Linked DNA regions of Homo sapiens. The main gene of each other region encodes a partner of the protein of the gene in region 2 in a complex. Each region holds a gene or a part of one and is shown on either strand. Other genes may lie near its edges.

The links.
Region 1: POLR3F (region 2) and POLR3C share a complex: the UniProt entries of both Homo sapiens proteins name them as parts of the RNA polymerase III complex.

The regions. Positions count from the first base shown.
Region 1 is NC_000001.11:145,827,163-145,836,798, reverse strand, and holds part of POLR3C (DNA-directed RNA polymerase III subunit RPC3), read right to left. Parts: intron 8,051-9,636; coding exon 7,962-8,050; intron 3,540-7,961; coding exon 3,435-3,539; intron 3,326-3,434; exon of another isoform or gene 3,310-3,325; coding exon 3,217-3,309; intron 306-3,216; coding exon 225-305; intron 1-224. UniProt on the Homo sapiens protein: DNA-dependent RNA polymerase catalyzes the transcription of DNA into RNA using the four ribonucleoside triphosphates as substrates.
Region 2 is NC_000020.11:18,469,597-18,477,394, reverse strand, and holds part of POLR3F (DNA-directed RNA polymerase III subunit RPC6), read right to left. Parts: intron 6,781-7,798; exon of another isoform or gene 6,704-6,780; intron 6,092-6,703; exon of another isoform or gene 6,030-6,091; intron 4,554-6,029; coding exon 4,486-4,553; intron 4,005-4,485; coding exon 3,937-4,004; intron 2,321-3,936; coding exon 2,208-2,320; intron 1-2,207. UniProt on the Homo sapiens protein: DNA-dependent RNA polymerase catalyzes the transcription of DNA into RNA using the four ribonucleoside triphosphates as substrates.

The DNA.
Region 1 (9,636 bases), on a different chromosome or scaffold from region 2:
AGAGTGTTAACTGAACGGAAAGTCCAGTGATTCTGTTTCCAATGGAACAAATCTGACCAAAAGTCTGCAGCAGGTAGCCCTCCTATCAAATGATGTGGAGAAATTGTCTGGGCTGGCTAGGTAGAGAATAACTCTGCAGGAGGATGACACTAGGTATCAGTGCAGAAATAAATTATCAACAGTACAGGCTAAAGAAAAAAGAAAAAAAGCAAAAACAGACTTACTGGATCATCTGCCAGCAGAGTGAGATACTGATCAAGAACTTGCTTAGAGATGTTATAGCCAACAGGTAGGGATCTGAAGATCTATGGAGCAAAGGACACTTAAAATGGGTTTGGGAACTTAGAACTCCTGACCTTACTGAAATAAAGATGTTTTAGGCCGGGCACAGTGGCTAAGGCCTGTAATCCGAACACTTTGGGAGGCTGAGGCAGGTGGATCACTTTGGGTCAAGAGTTGGAGACCAGCCTGACCAATATGGTGAAACCCCGTCTCTAGTAAAAATACAGAATTAGCTGGACGTGGTGGCGCATGCCTGTAATCCCAGCTATTTGGGAGGCTGAGGCAGGAGAACTGCTTGAACCTGGGAGGCAGAGGTTGCAGTGAGCCGAGATTGCGCCAATGGACTCCAGCCTGGGCTACAAGGGCGAAACTCCGTCTCAAAAAAAAAAAAAAAAAAGTTTTAATTTTAGTTACCACAAAACTGTCCAAAAATATTCACAGCAGGATTGTTTGTAAGAGTAAAAAACTAGAAACACCCAAATGACCAGTACCGAGTACACTAAAATAAAATATAGCACGGCCATTAAGTGGAATATGATACAGTCATTATGAAGAGTGAGACAAATCTACAGAAACTAACATGAAAGGAAGTTTTACATACACTGTCATATAAAAAATCAAGTTATAGAACAGTATGACTAGGTTGGGTGTGGTGGATCACGACTTTGTAATGCCAGCACTTTGAGAGGCTGAGGTGGGAGGATCACTTGATGTCAGGAGTTCGAGACCAGCCTGGCCAACACAGTGAAACCCTGTCTCTACTAAAAATACAAAAATTAGCCTGGCGTGGTGGCATGTGCCTGTGATCTCAGCTACTCGGAAGGATGAGCAGGAGAATGCCTTGAACCCAGGAGGCGGAGGTTGCAGTGAGCTGAGATTGCGCTACTGCACTCCAGCCTGGGTGAAAGAGTACAAGACTCTGTCACAAAAAAACAAAAACAAACAAACAAAACCCAACCAAAAAGCCATATGAATAGTCCCATTTTGGGGTTAAAAAATACATATACCCACATATATGTTAGAGTATGCAAGGTCTGAATAAAGATATATACCAAACTTTTTTTTTTTTTTTGAGACAGAGTCTCACTCTGTTTCCCAGGCTAGAGTGCAGTGGTGCGATCTCAGCTCACTGCAACCTCCCATTCCCGGGTTCAAGCGATTCTCCTGCCTCAGCCTCCCAAGTAGCTGGGATTACAGGCGCCCATCACCATGCCTGGCTAATTTCTGTAATTTTAGTAGAGATGAGGTTTCACCATGTTGGACTATGCTGGTCTTGAACTCCTCAGGTGATCTGCCTGCCTCGGCCACCCAAAGTACTGGGATTACGGGTGTGAGCTGCTGCGTCCGGCCTTTTTTTTTTTTTTTTTTTTTTGAAATAGGGTTTTGCTCTGTTGTTTAAGCTGGAGTGCAGTGGCATGATCATAGTTGACTGCAACCTCAACTCTTGGGCTCAAGCAATCCTCCTGCCTCAGCCTCTCGAATAGCTGTGACTACAGGCATATGGCACCACACCCAACTAATTTTTTAAAAAAATTTTTTGTAGAGACGGGGGTCTTGTCATGTTGCCCAGGTTGGTCTTCAACTCCTGGCCTCAAGGGATCCTTCTGCCTCAACCTCCCAAAGTTCTAGGATTACAAGTGTGAGTCACTGCACCTGGCCATAGAACTTTAAAATAAACAATATAAAAATATAGGAATATTTAAACACAGTCATGCACCATATAACATTTTAGTCAACAACGGACCGTGTGCAGCTGTGGTCCCATATTATACTGGAGCTGAAAAATTCCTACTGCTTTGTGATGTCATAGCTGTTGTAACATCATAGCACAATGCCGTTGTGAAACACATTACTCACATGTGTGGTGAGGCTGGAGTGCAGTGGTATGATCTTGGCTCACTGCAACCTCTGCCTCCTGGGTTCAAGCAATTCTCCTGCCTCAGCCTCCCGAGTAGCTGGGACCACAGGCGCATGCCACCATGCCCGGCTAATTTTTTTTTTTTTTTTTGTATTTTAGTAGATGGGTTTCACCATGTTGCCCAGGCTGGTCTCAAACGCCTGAGCTCAGGCAACCCACCAGCCTGGGCCTCCCAAAGTGCTAGGATTACAGGCGTGAGCCACCCCGCTCAGCCTGTTACTGGTTTTTAATAAATACAGTGTAGCCTGAGCGTGTAGACCATCACATTCACATTAATCTGCCATTCATTCACTAACTCCCACAGGGCAACTTTTAGTCCTGAAAGCTCCATTCATGTTAAGTGCACTAAACAGGTGTGGTTTTTAATTTTTCATACCATATTTTTACTGTACCTTTTCTGTGATTAGATGTTTAGATACACAGATGCTACTGCGTTACAACTGCCTACAGTATTCAGTACAGTAACATGCTGTACAGGTTTACAGCCTAGAAGCCATAGGCTATCCCGTTCAGTCTAGGTGTGCTGTAGGGCTACACCATCTAGGTTTGTGTTAAGTACACCCTATGATGTTCACACAATGATGAAATCACCTAACGACACATTTCTCAGAATGTATCCCTGCTGTTAAGTGATGCATGACTGTATTACTATGAAAGTAATATAAATAACACATATTGGATATATTAAATATCGATATTTTAAGTACAGGGGGTCAAATAATGTCCTGAATGCCAAGGCTCTCAGAGTCCAAATTGTGGATTCTTAAAATAATTAGGAATAGGCTGTACTTGACGAATAGATACTTTGACTAAGTGAATAGTGTAGATTTTTAAAAGCTGGATCCTAAGAGACCAAACATTTCAGTGCTCATCACTTGAAGATAATCCCTGCTCCACATCAAATGCCCTTCTCTTTCAAGGCTCAGACCTCAACCCAAACTCAGGATCTGTGTATAATAAACGTTGATAACACCCAAGAATCTGTCAGAAAGTTAGTGCAAGAACATGAAACTCACCTCATTGGAAGACAATGGCTGGGTGAAGGGAGCACTAGAGGAAGTGGTAATCTCACTCATTCGGAGCATGGTTCGCACAATCTCGCTGCTTGTCTGTTTGAAAAGTAAACTAGAATTCAGAAATCACAGTGCTGCCCCTGGCTCTATGTGCCAATGGCCATATCTGACAAATAAGTAAATGTCCCTGATGACCAATGACAGACCCACTTAGGTATTACCTGGTCCATCCTGTTAGCAACTGCGCTCACAATGGCTTGGTCACGGAAGTGTTGGTGGAATCTGTCAAGGTTGGCCTGCCAATAAATCCCATCATCTGGAATGGGCTGAGGAAAAGATTTAGAGAAACATTTAGCTATAGTGTAAAGTTTTCTGGTGAGGAGCTTGGATTTAATGGTTCACCATTTCTTTTCCTACACAGTAACAATTACATTGGTTGGAAAAAAATCATTCAGTCATGTAGACTGGTGTCTAGACAAATTCCGACTTCAAACAGGTTTTCTAAGCTCATCTCCAATCTTTCTCTCCCTATTTTATTATTTAACATTTATTTTAATTTTTTTCTGAGACGGAGTTTTGCTCGTCACCCAGGCTGGAGTGCAGTGGCATGATCTCGGCTCACTGCAACCTCTGCCTCTCGGGTTCAAGTGATTCTCCTGTCTCAGCCTACTGAGTAGTTGGGATTACAGGCAACCACCACTGCGCTAGGCTAATTTTTGTATTTTTAGTAGAGTTGGGGTTTTACAATGTTGGCCAGGCTGGTCTCGAACTCCTGACCTCAGGTGATCTGCCTGCCTCGGACTCCAAGTGCTGGGATTATAGGTGTGAGCCACCACATCCGGCCTTTCTCTCTCTATTTTAACTCTTCTCCATTACTTTCAAGTCTCCAACTTGACCCTTCTTCCTTCTCACTCTCGGCAGATGACTTTGCCTCTCATTTCACAGAGAAAATAGAAGACACTAGGCCAGAACTCACTCAGCTCTGTGCACATCCTCACCACATTTCTTTTTTGTTCTTGATTCATATTTTCACTCACTTTTATCACAGCTGAAAAATGCTCCTTTTACCTAAGGTTAATGCCCATATTGGTATTCCAAATCTTACTCTCTCATTCATTCTTGGGGATCCAGCTCTATTTTACCCTGTCCTCTAACATCTTCAGGCTTTCCTTCTCTACCGCCTTCTTATCAGCCTTTACCCTGTCCAAGTCTCTTTCTACTCTAGAATTCTCTTTCAACCCTATGCCTTCTCTTCTTTTCCTTAGTGTCACAGCCAAGCTTCTCAAACAGTTGGCCATCTCAGTTGTATCTCTACCTAGATTTACGCAACCCATTTCCACTATTGTACTGAAATGTCAATTGTCACTCGCATTCCAGTGAAATTCCACAACTGTCCTTAAGGATTCTATGTTGTTAAGTTCAAATAATAATTTCCACTTCTGATCTTATTTAACCTTTTGGAAGCATATGACATGGTTGGACATTTTTTCCTTCTTAAAACTTTATGTGGCTCCTTGGTTTTATGACACCATTTTTTTTTTCCTTTTAAAGACAGGGTCTTTGTCACCCAGGCTGGAGTGCAGTGGTGTGATTGTAGCTCACTGCAGCCTTGACCTCCCTGGGCTCAGGTGATCCTCTCATCTCAGCCTCCCAAGCAGCTGGGACCACAGGTGCGTGCCACCACGCTTGGGTAATTTTTGTATTTTTCTGTAGAGACGGTCTCACCATGTTGCTCAGGATGGTCTCAAATTCCTAGGCTCAAGCGATCTGCCCGCCTTGGCCTTCCAAAGTGTTAGGATTACAAGTGTGAGCCACTGGGCCTGGCCGACACCATTTTTTCTTGGCGTTACTTTGAACCTTTCTGGCTACCTTTCCTCAGTATCCACAGATTCCTCTTTCAGATCCCAACTGTAATCCTGGTGTTTTGTCAGGGTTCTGTCCATACCTTTCCTTTCTTTTTACTCTACATGCTCTACTTGGGTAATTTTATCTGCTCTCCAGGCTTCAACTATTGATGCATTTCCAAATCTGTTACTCTATCCTAGAACTCTCTCTTTTTTTTTTTTTTTTTGAGATGGAGTTTTGCTCTTTCGCCCAGGCTGGAGTGAAGTGGCACAATCTCCGCTCACTGCAACCTCTGCCCCCCAGGTTCAAGCGATTCTCCTGCCTCAGCTTCCCAAGTAGCTGGGATTACAGGCCTGCGCCACCATGCATGGCTAATTTTTGTATTTTTAGTAGAGACGGGGTTTCGCCATCTTGGCCAGGCTGGTCTCGAACTCCTGACCTCAGGTGATCCACCTGCCTCTGCCTCCCAAAGTGCTAGGATTACAGGCATTACCGCACCCGGCCTATCCTGGAACTCTCTATTATGCTCCAGATGCATAGACTCAGCTGCCTATTTGACACTTCCATTTGTTCCCCAAACTGTTCTGTTTTGTAAGTTTTCAGGTAACTACACTATAACCAACCCAATTTTTTTTTTTTTTTGAGACAGGGTCTTGCTCTGTTGCCCAGGCTGTAGTGCAGTGGCACCATCATGGCTCACTGAAGCCTTGACTTCCTGGGCTCAAGTGATCCTCCCACCTCAGCCCCTGAGTAGCTGGGACTACAAACATGTGCCACCAGGTCTGGTGTTTTTTTTTTTGGTACAGATGGGGTCTCACTATGTTGTCCAGGCTGGTCTCAAACTCCTGGGCTCAAGTGATTCTTCTACGTCAGCCTCCCAAAATGCTGGGATTACAGGCACGAGCCACTGTGCCTAGACAACCCAATTTCTTTTTTTTTTTTGAGATGGAGTCTTGCTCTGTCACCAAGGATGGAGTGCAGTGGCGTGATCTCAGCTCACTGCAACCCCTGCCTCCCAGGTTCAGGCCATTATCCTGCCGCAGCCTCCCAAGTAGCTGTAATTACAGGCACCTACCACCATGGCCGGTTAATTTTTGTATTTTTAGTAGAGACGGGGTTTCACCATGTTGACCAGGCTCATCTCGAACTCTGACCTCAGGTGATCCACCTACCTCGGCCTCCCAAAGTGCTGGGATTACAGGTGTGAGCCACTGTGCTTGGCCAGCCAACCCGATTTCTTAAGCTACAAACTTGGGTATCACCCCTAGTCCCTTGCTCTCCATAATCTACCACCCCATTACCAAGTTCTATCTATTCTTTATATTTATCAGATGTCTACTTTTCTTTCTCCTATCATTACCTTATTTCAGACTCTAAATCTTGGCCCATCTGGATTACTACAATAGCCTCCTAACTGGGTTTTTTTTTTTCCCTTTAAAACATAGCAGACACTATAAAAGGAGTAACTGGGTTTTCTCCTTCTAATTTTGTTTTGCATCATTCTTCCCATTTCTTAGAGTAGTGCTTTTTTTTTTTTTAAACTGTTTTGGGTCACAGTTCCTTTGAAGAATGTAATGAAAGGTACGGAGAGCTTCACTGAAAAATGCACGTAAGTATAACTGGACTCTCTGAAATCCATCCATGGAGTAGAACAAGTTAGGAACTGCTGTGCTATAATAATCTTTCTAAAATATAAATCCAGTCACTTCATTTCCCTGCTTAAAATCCATCAATGGCTCTCCTTTGCCTTCAGGATAAAGCCCAAACCTCTTAGACAAACATGTACACAAATAATAAATAATTCCAGTTATAAATATAAATGCTGTGAAGTATATGAAATGAGAAATGTGGTAGGAACTAGTGTAGGAGTGGGCAATGGTGCTTGAAGTCTATGAAAACAGCATTTAAGATAGAAATGATAAAAACAGAGACCACTACATGAAGATCTGGGGACAAACATTTGAAGCCGGAGCCAAAGTCTAAAGACCAGAAAGAGTTTGACATGTTTAAGAGATAAAGTCAGTAGAGGGAACACAGTGAGTAAGATGGAGACGGGGCAGAGGTGAGGTTGAAGAGCCCTGTCTCCAGCAGATCATACGAAGACCTAGATCACGTAAGGCTTCCTAGCCCGTACCTTGGATTTCTTCTAAAAGTAAAGGAAAGCTATTAAAGGAGTCTAATCAGTGGATGTGTTGTTTTGTTTTGAACAACTTAGAAAGTCATTTTGGCTACTAAGTAGGTAAGAATGCAGCTAGGGAGACCATTAACGAAAGCGTTTGCAAAGAGTTGAGAGATGGCAGTGAAAAGATGAGAAATGGTTGGATTTGAGGTAATTTTGGAAACTGGGCTGATATGTTTTACTGTGAGATTAGAGGGTTCCAAGGATTTTGGCTTAAGCAGAAATGGTGGTGTCCTAGGCGGCTGGCCTACGTGGTAGTGTCTTTTACTAAGATGAGGAAGTTTATGAGGGAGCAAGATATTTGGGAGGAGGAATCAATTATTCTGTTTTGGCCACACTAAATTTGAGATGCTTACTGACATCTTTATAGGTACGCTAAGAAGGCATTTGAATATGAGTTCAGGCCTATGTATAGTTTTTAGACCCATTTTTCATCACTGGCCCCTGTAGGTCTTTAGGTTCTCGCCATATTGAGCAACCTAAACTTTTTCTAGGCCCCTTTTTACATAAGCTGTTACCTCTGTTCAATGAAAGAATTAAGTTAAGGCTCAGAAGGGAGACAGTAATGGTTCATTCTTTGTTAGTCTATTCCTAATATTTAATGAGGTTCATAATCCTACTGCTTCTTAGCTCAGGAAGCTTTAAGCTCTCTTGGGGCTTGTTATCTGAGTGCTCTTTCTGGCCTGCTTCAGGGTGAGGACTTCTAATCAAGAAGCCCCATTACCTCCTTGTTATCTGTAGTATATTTTGGTCTCTTGGCCTTGGGCTCCCCAGCAGCATCTTCATCAGATGATCTCCTCCTTTTACCTTTCCCTGCCAAACAAACAATTAAACACTTAGACTATATCTCATATGATGACAGGAAATGACCAAACATGAGAGCAGGTGTCTTTCATTCCAAAGACATCTGTAGCTGCCTCTAGATCAGAGTTGCTTAGGGGGCTGAAGAGCTATAAGAAACTCAAGTAACTGATGAAATAATCTGAAACTCAACATGTTCAAAAAGAGTCTTATAGTCTTTCTCCTCCAATGCTCTCTTTCATGGCCAGTGATATCATCCTCCCACATGTGCAAGTCAGACACACAGATGTCACTCTTAGTACTTGTTTCCTTCACCCTCTCTCTTTCATTTTCCACCAGTCTGTCAACATTTACCTTTGCCCCATTCTCCCATCCTTTCTGTAGACAAAAAATCTTTTGAAAGTGCAAATTAGATCATGTCATTTCCTTAAAAATCCTTCAGTGGTCTTCCTTTGCTCTTAGCATAAAGAACAGATGCTCTATAAGGTCTTACTTGATTCAGCCCCTGCCTGTCTCCCATCCAAGTACTAAGCAGGTTGATCCTGATTAGCTTCTGAGATCAGACCCCTGCCTAGCTATGTCTCTAACCTTACCTCATGCCTCTCTTGCTTTGCTTACAATGCTTTAGCTATACTGACATTCTTTCATTTCCTCAAATGCTATTTTTTTACTACATACTATTCCCTCTGCCAAAAATGCTTTTCCTGTTACCTCACTGTTAGCTTCTACTTCAAATCTTAGCTCAAATGCCACCTTCTCAAAGAAACATGAGGCCTAAACTCCCAGATGAATCCCGTCTCTCGTTATATATTTTCTTTTCTTTTTTTTTTCCCGAGACAGAGTCTCACTCTGTCACCCAGGCTGGAGTACAGTGGTGCAATCTTGGCTCACTGCAATCGCTGTCTCCTGGGTTCAAGCAATTCTCCTGCCCCAGCCTCCCGAGTAGCTGGGATTACAGGCGTATGCCACCATACCTGGCTATTTTTTTTTTTTTTTTTTTTTGAGACGGAGTCTGGCTCTGTTGCCCAGGCTGGAGTGCAGTGGCACGATCTCGGCTCACTGCAACCTCCGCTTCCCGGGTTCATGCTATTTTCCTGCCTCAGCCTCCCAAGTAGCTGGGACTACAGATGCCCGCCACCACACCCAGCTAATTTTTTGTATTTTTAGTATAGACGGGGTTTCCCGGTATTAGCCAGGATGGTCTCGATCTCCTGACCTCGTGATCCGCCCACCTTGGCCTCCCAAAGTGCTGGGATTACAGGCGTGAACCACCATGCCCGGCTACCTGGCTAATTTTTATAATTTTAGTAGAGATGGGGTTTCAACATGTTGCCCAGGCTGGTCTCGAACTCCTGGCCTCATGCAATTCGCCTGCCTCAGTCTCCCAAAGTCTCCATTATATATTTTCATAACACCTCATACTTTTCCTTCATGGCACTTATTACAGTTTAATTATATACTGATGTGATTTTCTGATTAATGCATGTCTCATAATACTATGACAGTTCCTTCATAGGAATATTTCCTTCATAGTACTTATCACCGTTTAATGATATATCGATGTGATTTTCCGATTAATGTATGTCTCCTATACTAAA
Region 2 (7,798 bases):
AAAAACTGCCCAGTTTTTTAACAAAAGGACTGAAAATTTTGCATTCTTAGCAATGTATGAGTGTTCATCTTGGTCTGTATCTTGTCAGCATATGGTATTACCAATTTTTAGATTTTAGCTATTCTAATAGGTGTGTAGTGGTATCTCACTATACTAAATTTTATTTTAATTTGCAGTTCTCTAATGAAAAATAATGTAGAGCATCTTTTCATATGCTTATCTGCCATCTGTATGTCTTCTTTGGTGAGGTTCAGATCTTTTGCTCATTTTTAGTTGGATTATTTGTTTTCATTGTGTGTTTTTTTTTTTTTTTCTTTTTTTGAGATGGAGTTTCGCTTTTGTTGCCCAGGCTGGAGTACAATGGTGCAATCTTGCTCACTGCAACCTCTGCCTCCTGGGTTCAAGCAATTCTCCTGCCTCAGCCTCCCAAGTAGCTGGGATTACAGACATGTGCCACCACGCCTGGATAATTTTGTATTTTTAGTAGAGACAGGGTTTCACCATGTTGGTGAGGCTAGACTTGAACTCCTGACCTCAGGTGATCCACCCGCCTTGGCCTCCCAAAGTGTTGTTTTCTTATTGCTGAATTTTAGGAGTTCTTTGTATATTTTGGAGACAAGTCCTTTATCAAATATGTGATTTGCAAATATCTTTTAGTATGTAACTTGTCTTTTCATTCTCTTAATGTGTCTTGCAAAGCAGAGGTTTTCAAAAAATTTTGATAAACTCCAACTTATTAACATTTTCTTTCATAGACTACTATTGGAGTTATAGTCCAAGAATTCATTAACAAAGCCAAGGTCATGTAGATTTTCTATGTTTTCTTCAAAAAGTTTTATAGTTTTGCACTTTACACTGAGATCTAAGATTATTTTAACCCTTAAAAGGACACAGAAGTTCACCAACGGATGAATGAACAAAAGGTGATATACATCTATACAATGGAATTTTAATTGGCAATAAGAAGGAATAAAGCACAATATGGATAAATCTTGAAAACATCATGCTAAGTCAAAGTAGTCATACATAAAAGACTACATATTCTATTATTCCATTTATAGGAACTGTCCAGAATAGGCAAATCTATAATAAAGGCAGAAAATAAATTATTCGTTTTTAGGGCCTATGGAAAGAGAGGCTGGGAAACAAATACTAGTGGCCACATTTGGGGGTGATGAAAATGTTCTAAAATTAGAACAGCGGTGATGGTTGCACAACTCTTAGCTTATAGTAAAAACCAGTGACTGTAAATCCAAAGATTTTACACTTTAAAAGGTTGAATGAATTCTGTAGTATGAATGATGAATTATATTTCAGCAGAGCTGTTATTAAACATAAAGATGTAGAAGGAGGACTGACAAAATGAGGCTACATGATAGGGTTTTATTATATGATTTTTTCTACCTTTGTATATATTTGAAATTATCCATTAAACAATGTGGAAGGGAAATGCTATTCTGATAAATAAAATCACTAATAAGCATCAAATTCTTATAAGTGATGTTATAATTCTTATAATTCTTGTTTTATTCAAAAATAAAAACTTGAAGCAACATATGTAAGCGGATATTTGAGGAAAGGTCTACTCACTGCCACAGACCTAACAGCTCTGAAATTATAAAATTTGAATTATAGCTGTAATTCTTATGAAATGTGTATTGAAGCAAACTTTATTCTAGGGGAATCTCAGTTCCTCTGATGTCTAAATCAGTGAGGTCAGGGGCAGATGTCCCCGAGGGAGCCAGCTCTGGAGCAGGGGTGGGGCAGGATGAGGAGCAGGAAAAACACACGTGTACTAGAAGAGAAGCTCCACCAAGGCAGGGATCTTTCTACGACTTGTTCATTAATGTATCCCAAGCACTCAAAACAGTGTCTGGCACACAGCAAACACTCTTTGTTGAATGAGAAAGCTAATATGTCGGGATAAAGTAAATTATCTTACACACCACAAAATCTAGGAAAAATGTTCACAGTTCCAAAGATTCTTCACTGAAGACAGTAAAGTAGTTTTAGATTTTTGAGTGGGTGAGTGAGACACCAAGAGCTAACTGTGTAGGGACAAGTCTAAGCAGCATCTCCAAACCAATCCAACATGAGCTAAATTTTTAAGTCTTTTTTGACCAGCTGTTCTAAATCATGACATAACTTCAAGAATAAAAACTTGAAGCAACATATGTAAGTGGGTATCTGAGGAAAGGACTACTCACTGCTACAGACTTAACAGCTTTGATAAGCTTTTTACTTTCCAGATTCTTCAGAATTTTGTTGATTTCTGTTAATGGCAAATTACTTTTATAGCGGATATCTCTGCTCCATATTCCTATAAGAAAGTAAAGTAAAATAAGTTGAACTCTGGTTTTCATGGATTTTTAATGTTATTCCTCTAACTTGTGTCTCATTCCAAAGCTAGCAGTATAAAGCTAACAGTAAAGAATGCTGGCTAAAGTAGCAAAAGTATGCTAAACAATAAATAAGTATAATGCTTTGTAAGACTTATTATAATGATTTATAATTTCTAACTAGAAATTTCTTGGAATCCCAGTGTGGCAAACTTTTAAAAAACTTATGGAAAGGGCTGGGCATGGTGGCTCATGCCTGTAATCCCAGCACTTAGGGAGGCCGAGGCAGGTGGGTCACCTGAGCTCAGGAGTTTGAGACCAGCCTGGCCAACATGGTGAAACTCTGTCCCTACTAAAAATACAAAAATAATTAGCCGGGCCTGATGGCATGCACCTGTAGTCCTAGCTACTCGGGAGGCTGAGGCATGAGACTCGTTTGAACCCGGGAGGCGGAGGTTGCACTGAGCCGAGATCACACCATTGCACTCCAGCCTGGGCAACAGAGCAAGACTCCATCTCAAAAAAAAGAAAAAAAAAATTATGAAAACGACGTTTTTATAATGGAAGGAAAAATCATGGATGCAATGGAATTTTATCATCTGTACCCTTATCTCTGTTTTCTGATACTTTCATTTTAGATTGTAAATGTGAAATACAAACTTAAATTTGGGTCAAGGTCAACTGCCATCCTCAAGTGGGACAAAAACACTCTTTAGATGAGTGTCTGCATGCATGTAATCCATTATTTATACAACATTGTATTTGTGAGATGGAAAAGGAAGCCTAGGGTTCTTATGGCTGCTAAAAGCCCTGTGTGAGAAGCAATGATTTCTTTTTCAAAGAAGGAAATAAGTGTTATATATGGAAAGGGAATGTATGTAAATATTTTGCTTTATTTTCTTCCCAATGTAATGGCATATGAGATAGGAAGATTAAAAAAATATGCAGAATGGCTTTCTCATAGGACTATTTTTAAAAATGTTAATTTTAATAAATATAAGAATTAGTTATGTAATTTCAGATTACATCTCAATTTTTCCAGCTAATATCAATGACTCAAATAGATCCCAAATTATTGTAACTTAGGATTGCAATTTAGATACAGTTCTTCAAGCGGGTAGAAGAGAAACTATAGCTGCGGAGGGACATCTGTTAAGACACTGCTACACCACACCAGCTTTCCTTTTGGTCCTTGCAAAAACGAGAGGTGTCAGCATCCACAATTTATAGATAAGATAAAGAAACTGAAGCTCACAAAGTTTAAGTAACTTGTCCATGGTCATATAGCTAGAAGGTACAGATTTAAAAAAAAAACTTAAATTTTATTTATTTTGAATAGATAATACATTCATGTGACTCAGAATTCAGACGTCTTTTTCCATCCCTGGACACAGCCCTTTAGTTCTTGTCTCTTTCAAGGCAACAACGGCCTTACTCTTGGGTGTCCTTCAAGCACATGCATGTTATATTTGTATGTTCTATTACCTTCCTCAGTATACTCTGTCCACTGAGTTCTACCCTGGGAAGCTGAGATCTGGGTCCCTATATCTAGTTCCAAAGACAATGTTTTTTTCTGCTTCATCTTTCACATGCTTACCTTTATTTCCTGCATCCTCTATGATTTGATATACTAGTTTTTCTTGGTTATCGGATCCCTTCATTTTACTGTAGTGGAATAAAGTAAAATTAGTAAGGTAAGGACTATAGGATAATCTAATAATCTACATCACTACTTAAACAAAATTAGCAGACAAGGTCACCACAGTGACATATTTACCAAAAGAAAGGCTTACCTTAAATAGAATGAGACAGAGCTGTGTGTACCAACATGAAAAGATGTCCAAGATACAGTAAGTGAAAAAAACAAATTGCAAAACAGAATGGATAGCATGATTCCATTTTTGTTAAAAAAAAAAGAGAAAGATTATATATAAATATATAATCATCTATGTGTATTTATATATAGCTAGAAGAAAGGATATACACTAAATTATTAAGAGCAGTTACCTCTGGGAAATGGAATATATCATAGGAGGCAGGGATGATACACAGGACAGGTTTATGTAATTTTGTATTAGCTTTATTCCCAACACATACGTTTGCAAATAATAAACATTTTCTTAAAATTAAAAAAACAAGTACTTACCCAGCATTCTGAGAGTCCTTTATTCTATATAAAAGGCCCGTATTGCTCCTTAAGAGATCCAACTGACCCTAGTTTTTAAGACAGTAGAAAACAGGAGTCAGTTATTTTGGAGATATGTTAAATCAAATGACAAATGTTGATGCATTCTTTAACATTCTTAATTTTTCAAAACCTGCTCTTTAATCTCAAAATTTTTCAAAATATCACTAACAATTTCCTGTAGGCTAGATCTTGGCTTGGTTATATGATCAATGCATAAAGAATTTTTAAAAAGCAGCTTGAGAATAACAATCTATATTAAAAATCAATATAAATCCAAATTACATATATAAAATAAAAATATAATTTATATAAATAAAAAGTTGAAATAAAGACTAAATAGGCATATTCTGTTGCACAGTGAAAAATAAAATTTATAAAGTTAATGGCTGGGCGTGGTGGCTCACACCTGTAATCTCAGCACTTTGGGAGGTCAAGGCAGGTGGTCCATTTGAGGTCAAGAGTTTGAGACCAGCCTGGCTAACATGGCGAAAACCTGTCTCTACTAAAAATACAAAAATTAGCCAGGTGCAGTGGCATGCGCCTGTAGTCCCGGCTACATGGAAGGCTGAGCTGAGATCGCACCACTGCACTCCAGCCTGGGCAACAGAGCAAGACTCCATCTTGAAAAGCAAAAAACAAACAAAACAAAAAACAAAAAAAGTTAACAGTGACATTTACTGAAGTCAGCCAATGAATAAAAGGACTAGAGTAGTATTGTTTTTATATAGCAAATCAAAAGTAAAATAAAGTATGTCTGTCATGCTCCTGAATTTCCTTGGGTCCGAACTTAAGAGAACCCAGATAATTATACCACTAGGCTCTGGAAGTACTAGAAAGCCACAGTTGAGAGGGACGCTATTCCCTTGTTTATTTATGTATTTATTTAGAGACAGAGTCTCACTCTGTCACCCAGGCTGGTGTGCCGTGGCACAATCTCGGCTCACTGCAACCTCTGCCTCCCGGGTTCATGCGATTCTCGTGCCTCAGCCTCCCAAGTAGCTAGCATTACAGGTGTATGCCACCATGCCACGCTGATATTTGTATTTTAGTAGAGATAGGGTTAGGCCATGTTGGCCAGGCTGATCTTGAACTCCTGGCCTCTAGTGATCCGCCTACCTCGGCCTCCCAAAGTGCTGGGATTACTGGCAGGAGCCACTGTGCCCAGCCCATTCCCTTGTTTTAAAACAGACACTCATGACTTGGAAATGGATTTACATACTGAATGAACAGTGACACACTCCTGTTCCCTGACCCCACGAAGTGGCAAAGTAGGACTACAAGGCCCAATCCAGAGGCTCTGGTCATTTATCCAGCTTATGAATATTTACTGAATACTTGTACTGTGCCAGGTGTTATGATAGGTGTTTGGGGGAACAACATTAATTCTAAAAGGGAAACACACAGGTGACTTCAATACCCATCTGGTTGGCATTAAGATAGAGGTAAGTAAAGCCACCCTGAACTCCCAGATTGGGTACTCGGAGAACAGGCTGCGGCCCAACCTGGGGGGGTTCAGTGACTTCCTGGAGACAATGGCAGAGTTGAGTCCTAATGCGTTAGTCATCTGTAAAGAATAAGAAGAACCTTCTAAGCAGGGGAACAACATGAGTCCTGTGGCACGAAACAGCATGATGTGGCCAGAAACCAAAAACAATCTGCTCCTCCTGAAACCTAACTTTTGAAGTAGAGTGGTGGAGATGAGGCTGGTGAACAATGCAGGGACTCAGTGTGGGAAACCCAGGAGTTTGAACTTGAATCTCCAGTATAAACAAATTGTAGGTGGTAGAGTGCCTTGGTCAGACCTGCATTTAAGACAGATCAGGGGCCAGGCTCGGTGGCTCATGACTGTAATCCCAAATCAGGCTGGCTTCTCTGAGACAGATGGAGTCATGGAAACCAGTTAAGATGCTACTGCAGCTGTCCAGGTAAAAGCCATGAGCCTGAACATGATGCAGTACCAGGGATAGAAATGGAGGGGGTGTGGACAGCAAATTTAAGAACTGTTTTTAAGAGCTAAAATCAGAAACATTACATGATTTATTAATAATCACTCCCTTTCTTAATATCCTTTGATAGCTCTACTACTGCCTGCATACAACCTATAGCCAATAGGACTCGCAGTGGGTGGGTGGTGGCAGAGGTGGTAAAAGAGAGGTGCTGAAGATGATTTTCAGTCAGAAGGAAAGAGCTGAGAGGGCGATCAGAGGAAGAAAAGAACTTTTTCCACTGCTACAACCTCCCAGAATCCCTTCCTCTGTCTTTCCTAGAGCTGAAGACCTTCACCACAGTGAAATAACTAGAAATCAGCAACATTCCTTTGTCCTTGGGCTAGAACAGGGGTGAGCAATCTGCTCCACAGCTTGTTTTTATAACCAAAGTTTTGTTGGAACATGGCTGTAGCCATTTGTTTATGTATCATCATCCATGGCTGCTTCTTGCTAAAATGACAGTGTAGTTGTGACAGAAATCATATGGCTCACAAAGCCTAAAACATATACTGTCTGGCACTTTATAGAAAAAGTTTGCCAACTCCTGAGCTAGAAAATTGATGGGAAAGGTTTAAGAAAAGATTCATCGGACCCCAAATCTCCACATCCAGAGCCCTTGGAAATCCAACAAGGCTAGTAGACTTAAAAAACAAATCAGTCATTCAGATGAGGCCTTGGCGTAGAACTCTTTAACCTAACTGCTACTAAAGCCAAACTGAAATGCTCTTAGGAAAAGGATGTTTTGGTGATGAGGGAAAGTAAGGGAGATTTAGAGCATCGGCACCACTTGGTGGGTTTTTAGACAGTCTTGCTTGTTTGTTTCTGGACAGATGGAGAATGGCTTCACTGATAAATTCCATTGCAATGTCACTGGGGGCTAAGGCTGCACTTCCTCCCCAAAGCCCAACATTCTTCATTCAACTGGACTCATTCTTGCTTCCTGAAATGCTCAGAGTGACAATGTGGAGAATGAAACCCTGATGACTGGGCTCTGTGACAACTCATAGGAAAATCGGGGGGTGGAATATTTTATGGGAAATGGCCCAACACCAGCAGTAGGAAGCAAACAGAAGGTGAGAACAGACTAGACCTATGTATGGCAGTGGCAATTAATAAATACAACAGTTATACCATAATACATTTATTTCATTTGTCTTATAACGCATAATTATTTCTTCTTTTTTCAATTCAGGTAGTTTGAGCTGTTTCCTGGTTTAGAGTCTTATCAGTCAAACCTAACACACTTTCTCGTTTTATGACTGCTGTATTAGGGTTCTCCAGAG